Regions from separate parts of the Homo sapiens genome. Here region 2 is linked to region 1. Evidence: fine-mapped expression QTL. Tissue or cell type: whole blood. Region 1 holds a variant in brackets; the other region holds the start of a gene. All regions are shown on one strand. Distances are from middle to middle.

What was found.
Region 2: it holds the start of TFCP2L1, and the variant in region 1 is fine-mapped to the expression of TFCP2L1 in whole blood (INTERVAL, PIP above 0.99).

Annotation. Positions count from the first base shown.
Region 1 is chr2:121,306,215-121,311,593 of GRCh38, forward strand. It overlaps the pseudogene RPS17P7. Among named protein-coding and RNA genes, the nearest start is that of TFCP2L1, 24 kb to the left of the region's middle. The variant C/T (reference allele first, on the strand shown) is at 2,369.
Region 2 is chr2:121,282,538-121,287,916 of GRCh38, forward strand. It overlaps TFCP2L1 (transcription factor CP2 like 1), which reads right to left and starts at 2,665. Exons shown (of 15, transcript NM_014553.3): 1 at 2,511-2,665. The coding sequence starts at 2,572. RefSeq lists a silencer at 2,691-2,830.

The DNA of each region.
Region 1 (5,379 bases):
AGACCCCATTTCAAAAACAACGACAACAAAATAATGGATGCAAGACAGACATCAGTAAGATGGTAGACCAAGAATATCCTGGCCAGTATTCCCCATGGAAACATTAAATAAACAACTGGAGACTGGTTAGAATACCTTTATGGAAGCTCTGGAAATCACTCAAGATTTATAGCAAACAAGATTTCATGATGTTTTGACTTGCCTATGCTCCATCCCCTCCCCAGCTGGTGCACTTTGGGGGAGGCAATGTCCTGGTTCCCAGCTTCTTTCCATAAGTCAGAGGGAGCAGAACCAATCAAGTACACCACATTCTAGGCTGTCCAGGGGCTGCCTGAGGGATTGGTCTCTGTAATTGTCTAACTTGGAGCTCAGACAGCCAAAAGTGACAATGCTCAGATCTCGAGCTGGAAGAACCTGTGGGAAGCAATGGTCATAGCTTCTGAAAACTGACCTGCAGACCCCTGAGGTAAGAAATTACTGATTAAGGAATACAATAGAATACCTAAGACCTTGAGAGGAAGCAGGGGGAGAATCTAAGGGGAAATTAAGACGTTTAAAGGTAGGTGGTACATGCCTGTAGTCCCAGCTACTCAGAAAGCTGAGGCAGGAGGACTGTCTGAGCCCAGGAGTTTGAGGCACTAGTGTGCTACGGTTACACCTATGAAAAGACCTGGGAACACCTTATGCCTTCATGCCTGGCTGATTAGTGGTCTGCATGAGACAAGTCTGCAAAGACTGGGAAAGGTGGCTGTTTTGTCAAATGCCCAATTTTTAACAAAGGATCACAAAGTGTACAAACAAATAGCAAAACATGGCTAATTCAAAGGACCAAAATAAATCTTCATAAACACAGACATCAACCTTATTGCACAAAGTCTTTAAAACAATTGCTTTATATATGTTCAAAGAACTAATGGCAAACATGGACAAAGAACTAAAAGAAGGCAGGAAAATCATATATAAACAAAATAAGAATATCAACAAAGAGATAGAAATTATGTATACATAAAAAGAACCAAACAGAAATGCTGACACTGAAAAATACAATAACTGAATTGAAAATTTTACTGCCCGTATTCAATAACAGATTCGAAAAGGCAGAAAAAAATAATCAGAAACTTGAAGACAGGTCATTTGAAATTCTTGAGTCTGATGGGCAAGAAAGAAAAAAGAGTGCAGGAAAAAGTGATCAAAGCCTATGAAACTTGTGGGACACCATCAGGTGGCCCAATACAATCACTATGAAAGTCACAGAAAAAAAGAGAGAAAAAGGGTCAGAGAGATTTTAAGAAATGATATGACCCCAAATTTCCCATATTTGAGACATGAATATACACATTCAAGAAGTTTAATGAACTTCAACTGGATAAATCTAAAGAGACCCCCACCAAGATGTGTTATAATCAAACTGTCAAAAAGCCAAAGACAAAGAAGGTATCTTCAGATCTCCAAGAGAAATGCAACTCATCAAGCACAAGCGGTCCTCAATAATATTACCAACAAATTTCTCAGCAGAAACCATGCAGGCCAGAAGGCAATGGGATAATATGTTTAAAGTACTGGAAGAATAAAACCTGCCAGTGGAGAATTCTATATCTGGCAAAACCATCCTTCAAAGATGAGGGAAAAATTACAACATTTTTAGATAAGCAAAGTTGGGAGAAGTTATTATCACTAGACTTCCCTACAAAAATAGCTAAAGGGAATCCTTGAAGTTAAAATGAAAAAACACCAGATAGTAACTTAAAAGCTCTTTGAAAGTATATAGTTCTCTGGTAAAGGTAAATAAATGGGCAAATGTAAAACCAGTATTACTGCGATTTTATTTTAGAACTTCACATTTTATTGTTCTATGTAATTTAAGTACAAAAGCATAAGATATAATTATAAATATATGTTAATGGGTACACAATATATAAAGATATAATCTGTGACATCAATAATGTAAAGTGGAGGGGGCATGGCTGTAAAGGAAGGGTTTTTGTTTGAAATTCAAGTGAAGTTATAGCAGTTCAAAATACATTGTTATAGCTTTGGGATATTATATGCAATCCTCATGGTAACCACAAAGGAAATACATATATAATATACACAAAAGAAAATAAGAAAGGAATCAAAACATCTCACAACAAAAAATCAACTAAACACAAAGAAAGGAAGTAATGGAGGAAATGATGTACAAAAATTCTTCAAGACATACAGAAAATAAATAACAAAATACCAATAGTAAATTCTTCCCTGTGGGTAATTACTTTAAATGTGAATGAATTAAACTTCCCAATAATAAGACATAGATTGGCAGAATGGCTTTAAAAAACAGTGTTTCTATGTTACAGCATAAGAGACTCACTTTAGGGTTAAGGATACA[C/T]ATTGGTTAAACGTGAAAGGATAGAAAAGGATATTCCAAGCAAATAGTAATAAACAAAGCAGGGATGACTATGTTAATATCAGACAAAATCGATTTTAATGATAAAAGGGTGAATTCACCAGGAAGACATAACAATTATAAACATATATGCACCACACATCAGAGTTCCTCATTATATGACGTATCAACTGAATTAAAGACAGAAATAGCTCTATGATAATAGTAGAAGACTTTAAAACCCAATTTTCAATAATGGATAGAACAACCAGACAGAAGATCAATAAGAAAATAGGGGATTCGAACAATGCTTTAGACAAGTTTGACCTAAAAGATATATACAGAACATCTACCCAGCAACATCACAATACACAATTTTCTCAAGTGCACAAAGGCCAGGGAGGGTGGCTCACACCTGTAATCCCAGAACTTTGGCAGGCTGAGGTGGGAGGATCACTTGAGCCCAGGAGTTCAAGGCCAGCTTGGGCAACATAGAGAGACCCCATCTCCACAAAAAGAAATTTAAAAAATTAGCCAGGTGTGGTGGTGGCAAATGCCTGTAGTCCCAGCTACCTAGAAGGCTAAAGAGGAAGAATTACTTAACCCCGGGAGGTCAAGGTTACAGCGAGCCATGATCATGCCACTGCATTTCAGCCTGGGCAACAGAGCAAGATCCTTTCTCAAAAAAAAAGAAATAGAGAGAGAGAGAGAGAAAGAGAGAGAGAGAGGAAGGCAGGAAAGAAGGAAGGAGGGAGGGAGGCAAAGAGGGAGGGAGGAAAGGAAGGAAGGAAAGGAGGGAGGGAGGGGGGGTAAGAGGAAAGGAAAGGAAAGAGAGCAAGAAAGAGAAGAAAGAAAGAAAAGAGAGAAAGAAAGAAACAAAGAAAGAAATAAAGGAAAAAAGAAAGAAAGGAAGGAAAGAAGGAAGGAAGGAAAGAAAGAAAGAGAGAGGAAGAAAGAGAGAGAGAGAAAGAAAGAAAGAAAAAAAAGAAAGAAAGAGAAAGAAAGACAGAAAGAAAATTATCCAGAAGAGATCATATGTTAGGGCACAAAATAAGTCTTAATACATTTTAGAAGATTAAAATTATGCATAGTGTCTTTTCTGATCACATTGGAATGAAACTAGAAACCAATAGCAGGAGGAAAATTTGAAAATCCACAAATATGTGGAAATTAAACAACACACTCTTAAACAACCAATGGGTCAAAGAAGAAATCACAAGGGAAAATAGAAAATATCTTTAGACAAATTAAAATGAAAACAGGTTTCTGCTTTTTTGGAGGGCAGTGATCTAATCTGCAGACACCATATCCCCTCTTCCACTTCCTGCTGCAGCCAATAAAGGCCGTTGCTACCATAAAAAAAAACAAAACAAAACAACAACAACAGGTTTCCTCTTTCACCAAGGACCCACCAAGATGAGTCATGTTCACACCAAAGCCGTGAATAAGGTGGCCTGGGTCATCACAGAAAAGCACTACATGAGCCTGGGCAACAACTTCCACATGAACGTGTGTGTGTGTGTGTGTGTGTGTGTGTGTGGAGATTGCTATTATCTCCAGTAGGAAGTCCTGCAACAAGATAGCAGGCTATGTCACACATCTGATGCAGAGGATTCAGAGGGTCCCAGTAAGAAATATCTCCATCACATTTTAGGAGGAGGAGAGAAAAAGGAGAGATAATTCTGTTCCTGAGGTCTCAGTCCTGGATTAGGAGGTCACTGAAGTAAATTCTCACACTGGGGAAATGCTAAAGCTTTTGGACATTGGCAGTCTATCCAACCTGCAGGTCACTCAGCCTGAAGTTGGGATGAATTTTAAAATGCCACGTGGAACTGTTTTGACTCTTTCTGCAATGTTATAATATTTTCAGTAAGCCTGAGACAACAGCAAAAAATAAAAAATAAAAACACAAACTAATACTTATGGGATGCAGTATAAAGAGCGCTAAGATAATTCATAGCTGTAAACACGTTAAAAAAGAAGAAAGATTTGAAATCAACAACCTAATGTTACGCCTTAAGGAACTAGAAAAATATCCCAAACCTAGCAGAAGGATAGAAAGGATAACGATTAAAGCAAAGATAAATAAAATAGAGAATAGAAAAACAATACAGAAAATCAACAAAACCAAGAGCTGGCTCTTTGAAAAGATCAACAAAATTGAAAACAAACCTTTAACTAAGTAGACTTAAGAAAAAAAGAGAAATGTAAAATAACTAATATCAGAATGAAAGAAGGGCCATTCAACTTTACAGAAAAAAAATTATAAGAGAGTACTAGAGGGCTAGGCACCGTGGCTCACCCCTATAATCCCAGCAGTTTGAGAAGCTGAGGGGGTTGGATCATTTGAGGTCAGGAGTTCAAGACTAGCCTGGACAAATAGTGAAACCCCGTCTCTACTAAAAATACAAAGATTAGCCCGGTGTGGTGGTGTGCACCTGTAATCCCAGCTATTCGGGAAATTAAGGCAGGAGAATCGCTTGATCCTGGGAGGCGGAGGTTGCAGTGAGCCAAGATCGCACCACTGTACTCCAGTCTGGGCGACAGAGTGAGACCCTGTCTCAAAAAAAAAAAAAAAAAGAGTACTAGAATAACTGCATGCCAAAAATATTACATAACCCAGATGAAGTGGACAAACTCATAGAAACACACAACATACCAAGAGTTGATGAAGACACAGAAACTCTGAAAAGACCTATCAGTAGGAGGGAGATTGGATTCAGAACCAAAAACCCCTCAACAAAGAAAAGCCTAGGACCAGATAGCTTCACTGGTGAATTCTACCAGACATTTAAAGAAGAACTAACACCACTTCTTCTCAAACTCTTACAAAAAATTGAAGAGAAAGGAACATTTTCAAACTCATTCTGTAAGGCCAACATTACCATGACATCAAAGACACTGCAAGAAAATAAAACTTCAGACAAATATTGCTTATCAATATTGATCCAAAATTCCTCAACAAAATTCTGGTACACCAAATTCAACAGCATATTAAAGGAACACTATGACTA
Region 2 (5,379 bases), 24 kb before region 1:
AAGAAAGAAACAAAAAACCCAGCATTTTAAAAATGCCCTTACAAGGGACAAAGAATTCCTTGAGAACATGAATGACCTACAGGCAGGCAAGGCTTGTGTAAGGTCTCTAAATTATGAGCAGCACATAAACAAGTGCCAAATAAGTGCCAGTGCTCTTATCTTGATAACCCTCTTCCCTTCGTGGGTCCCTGACTAGGAATCCAATTAGCTGACCCCACTTGTCTGTATAAACAGAGTCACTGGTACAATCTGTTCCTCGCACATCATAAACAAGCGTCTCTACAACACAAACCCGGCACACACCCCATCAACATCTCATCAATTTTGAGAAGAAAAAGCCTGGCATTGAGCACACACCTGGAAAACCTGCCCTGTGTGGGCCTCCCCCGTCACCATCCACTGCCGAAAAATAAGGGTGCAAGGCCGTCTCGACTTTCCCCCACAGGGCGTCTTCCTTTTGTCAGAGCAGGGCACACTCCCAGCCCGGGTGGTTCTCTAGGAACACTGAGGATTGCATAATTTCATGTTTGCCCAGACCATGTCAAGTTAATAATCCACGGACTGCTGCCTTTAAATTTTTTAAACAGGGGCGGGTGGGCAGAGGAAGTTAAGAACCATCCCTCAACAGTAACTTGTTTCAAGCCTGGCATCTTTATTTGCCAAGGAATAAAAGTCACGAGAACATCAAACAGAAAGGGGGAAGGGAGTAAAGGCCTCTACCCTGGTGAGGTCAGACAGCTTGCAGAAGTTCTGCCAAGTGAGGAGACGACCAAAAATAAAATACAAAAAACGCAAGGAAAAGGACCAGACCCTCCCTCTAGAGTCAGGGGACCAGGGGCATATGCACAAACCGCCACCTTGGCCCTCACTGAGGGCAAAACTCCCAGCTTCCAAGAAGTGAAATAAAAAAGGGCAAGGACTTCTTTATCCATGGTCCCCCGATGACCCCAGAAGCCAATATGGCTTTACAGCACCACCCACTCCCAACGCTCACCCTCCTCCTTTCACCAAATCCTAAAAGGTACCTGAGCTACTCCAGACAAACTTCCATCTCGGTAGCAGATGTCAGAACTGTACCTCCCAGGCAAGGGAGAATTGTTCCCTAACGGGGTGAGGACATTGTAGGTATCTAGGAAGTTTCAAGTACACTCACCTTCAACTCAGGGTCACCTTCAAACTCATTGTTAAGATATGGCAACATACTTAATGGCAGCAAACTAAAACTTAGCCAAAGCTACAACTAAAACTTCAGTACAGTAAAAATGTATTCCATTGTAGCATTTCTTGCAAGTGAATGGACACTTAATCTCTGGGTGATTAACATCTCCTCCTGGGCTTCCCTCTGGTGACATCACCGTGGTCTGCCGGGTGGCTGTCAGCCTTTAAGGCTCTAGACCTTTGCCATCTCCGACTACTTTGGCCCATGAATAAAAACAGCAGATACATCCACTAAACCCAATCATTCCCCCGCCTCCAGGAAAAGGGGATGTCTTCAGGGAGGACAAATACCTACCAGCAGCCAGGAATTACAAATAACGTTTTAAGATCTAAGTGGGAACTTCTTGGGGCCAAAACTAGCACTTAAAGGTAGCTCTAGTATGGGGGCTGTCAATGCCTGTGACTCCTTCGGCCTCATCATTCATTTTCCTTGAGCCCATATCAAATGCCCTTTGGGTTAAATTAGGCACATTTCATAAACTGTGACTAAGATGGAAATAAGGACAGGCTAAAGCTGGTTCAGGCGAGTTCACAAAGTGAAATGACTGCCCATTAGTCCCGGCCAGCAGCAGAACAGGGAAAAACAATCCTCCGGGAGCGAGAGCACACGGGGTCCTACTGCTAAGAGGGGCCTGTGGGGAACTGTGCAAAACACGCAGGACTTACTTTCCCCTCTGAAGGGCACTACTCAAATCCCTCCAGCAGAAGAAAGATTTCCATCAAGGGCAATAACCACGCGGGCCTCGGGCGAACACGCGCAAGACCATCGCGGGAAGTGGGGCGGCCTGCCCCTCCGAGCCCGCCGCCCGCCCCTCGTCCAAGGAAGGGCACTGCAGAGGGCGCGAGGCTGGGAGAGGGGCCCCGGCGGAGACGGGCAAAGAGCAGGGGACGAACTTCCCCGGGCCGGGCACCAGGCTGCTGGCAGGAAGTTTCCTCTGCTTCTCCGATACGCGGGGGAGAGGAGGGCCGCAGGGGGCGGACGGGCCAGGGGAGGCGGCGGGCCGGCAGGTGCGCGCCCTGCACCCTCTCTGCCGCCTGGGAGGAGCCCTCGCAGACATAGGGCTCTGCGCGCTCGCCTCCCCAGCGGGCCCCCAACTCCGCACGTCGGGTCCCGCCGGCGTCCATCTGTCAGTCCCTAGGCGGGACGCTGGGCGGGTCTCTCAGTCCCCAGAGGGCGGACAGCGGGGAGGCCAGGGCCCAGCAGGGGCGCCCCCTCTCCGCCCCTGGACGTCCAACGGCGCCCGGCCCGCCGGCCCGGCCCGAGACCCGCGGGGACCGCGCGCGGCCCTTACCGCAGGTAGCTGCCGGAGTTGTGCTGGTTGTAGTGCTCGGGCTGCGTGTGCCAGAAGAGCATGGCTGGAACTCCCAGCGCGCCGACCGGGGCGCGGCAGCAAGCGCAGACGCGGGGCGCGCCGAGGACCCAGCGGCGGCTTCGCGCTCCGAACCCGCGGTGCCGGCCGGCTCGGCGCATTTATCGGCGGCCCAGGGGCGGGACAGCGGTGAGACCCGCCCCCCAGGAAGCGCGGCCCGGAGGGCGGCTCCCCGCGGCAGCCGCACCTGGCTGACTCCCGCGCGTGCCTTTCCGGCGAGCGAGCGCGCCTCCGGGGCGGCCAGACCAGAGGGCTCTAGGGCCGGCCGGGTGCTCTCCCCAAACTCCGATGTGGGGCTCAGGTGACCCTTGCCGCCCCCAACCCGCTCCACACGGCCCCTCTGGCCTCTGCTCCCCACTCTACGCCCAGGGCCGGTCTCCAGAGCGGCTCCGAGATTTCCAGCCTAGGCCCTCTCTGTCGCCTTTCCTCGCTCTTGTTTTTTCATAGCACTTCAGACGCTCTGAAATCATGGGGGTTTTTTTGTTGGTTTTTTTTTTTTTGAGACGGGGTCTCGCTCTGCCACCCAGGCTGGAGTGCAGTGGCGCGATCTCGGGGCTCACTGCAACCTCTCCTCCCAGGTTCAAGCAATTCTCCTACCTCAGCCTCCTGAGTAGCTGGGATTACAAGCGCCCCCCATCACGCCTGACTGATTTTTTTATTGTTAGTAGAGACGGGGTTTCGCCATGTTGGCCAGGCTGGTCTCGAACTCCTGACCTCAGGTGATCCGCCCACCTTGGCCTCCCAAAGTGCTGGCATTACAGGCGTGAGCCCCCGAGTCAGGCCGACATTTTTTTATTTTTTATTTTTACTTGTGTACTGATTGTCTTTCCCATTAGACTGTAAGCTCCAAGAGGACAGGGCCTGGCTCGCTTAACACCCCGTTACCTGCACTGCCTAGAACAGTGCATGGGACATAGTTAAGATAAATGTTTGTTGAGTAAACATAAAAAAAGAAAAAAGGAATGCACCAAAAGAGTAATCAGAGAAGCCTTCCTGGAGGAGGTGACATTGAGCTGAGACCTGATGGATGCAAAGGAAGCATCTCTGTGAACATCACCTAGGGAAAAATAGTTCCAGGCATAGTTCCCTACCCCCTTGGCAACAGTGACTGCCAAAGCCTTGAGGAAGACCTACTTGGCATGGCTGGTCTTGAGGAGAGCTTAGGAGATGAGGTGAGGAGGGCGGGGAAGATCAGAGGGCCTGGCAGGCCAGGACAAGGAGCTAGGATTTTATTCTGTGTTTTAAGCAGAGGAGTCACATGTATGATTTGCCTTTTGGAAAGATCAGTCTGGCAGCAGTGTAGACAGTGGGTCATGGGGTGGAGGGGAGGGCCATTAGGAGGGAGTGGAGTTCCCTGGAGCCCTGACCCCTATCCAGGTGCTATCCGGTTCTCCAGTACATGGCACAGCACCTGGCACAGAGGAGATGGGGATTCTGTCCCTGAGTATTAATCCAGTCAAATGACATCCCTTGGGGACCTGGTCCAGAACTCCCCACTCCCCCACGCATGGATGTGGGTAAAACCCTCCCTCACTCTGCTGTTCCTGCCCTCCTCCCTCCAGCCATAGGTCACAACTGGCAAACCACTTCCTCTGTGCAGCCCTCAAGGACTGCCCCCCACTGTTCTGCCCTGTTAGGAGAATGGGAATATTTCCCCGGCTTCAGGTGGTGCTGTCAGCAGACAGTCCCCCAGCCATCGGCTTCTCCAGGAACTGCCCCTGCTCAGAGAGCAGCCTTGCCCTCTGTCATGTCCCTCCTGGGATAGCCCACATCCCAATGACTATCCCAGCAGAAGTATAAAAGCTTGGCCATCTCTGCCTGACTGGGGACAGTGCTGATGGGGTATTTTAGCCCCAGGACTCCCCATGAAGACAGTCAAAGCTGTCACAAGACCTGTGTCCTGCTCAGGGTCTCCCTCCTGCTTCCTTCCAGTTCCTTGCCCAGGGGTTACTCTTAAGGGAACTTCCAAAGAAACATCCTGAACACCGACCCCCACAACCAACCTCACCCCATCAGGGTCCATGACAAACCCATTGTTTAAATGGGAGACACTCTGGGGTGGTCTGGAAAGAACATGTCCTTTGCTGGACTCGTCCTTGAGTTCTAACAGGAGAGGTCCATGGGTAAGCAGCAGTGACAGTACAGTGTGGTCAGGGACGTAGAGGCTGCCCTGGGAACACAGAGGAGGACTCTGGAGCTCCGAAGAGGCTCCAGCATGAAGTGATATCTCCTGATGGATGGGTGAGTGGAAGTGAAACCAATCTGTGGAGATGGAGGGAGGTTTCCGGCCCAGTAGACGCTCCTGCAAAGGCCTGGAGGAAGGGCAGTCAATATTATTAGATGGTTCAGACCTGGGTTTACTACTTAGCTCCATCTGAATCTATGACCTTGGGTGGAGTAAATTGACCTCATGCTGCTTCTCCCATCAAGAGGTGGTGTCTGTTTCCCTCCCCTCCCCCTTCCGCCTGGGCTGACCCTGTGACTTACTTTAACCATAGAATGCAGAGGAAGTAATGCTTTTCCCTTCTGGGCTGGCCCCTAGGCAGCTTCTCTTTTTTTTTTTTTTTTTTTTGAGACGAAGTTTCTTGTTGCCCAGACTGGAGTGCAATGGCAGGATCTCAGCTCACCGCAAGCTCTGCCTCCTGGGTTCAAGCGATATTCCTGCCTCTGCCTCCTGAGTAGCTGGGATTACAGGTGCCTGCCACCACACCCAGCTAATTTTTTATATTTCAATTAGAGACGGGGTTTCACCATGTTGGCCAGGCTGGTCTAGAACTCCTGACCTTCAGGT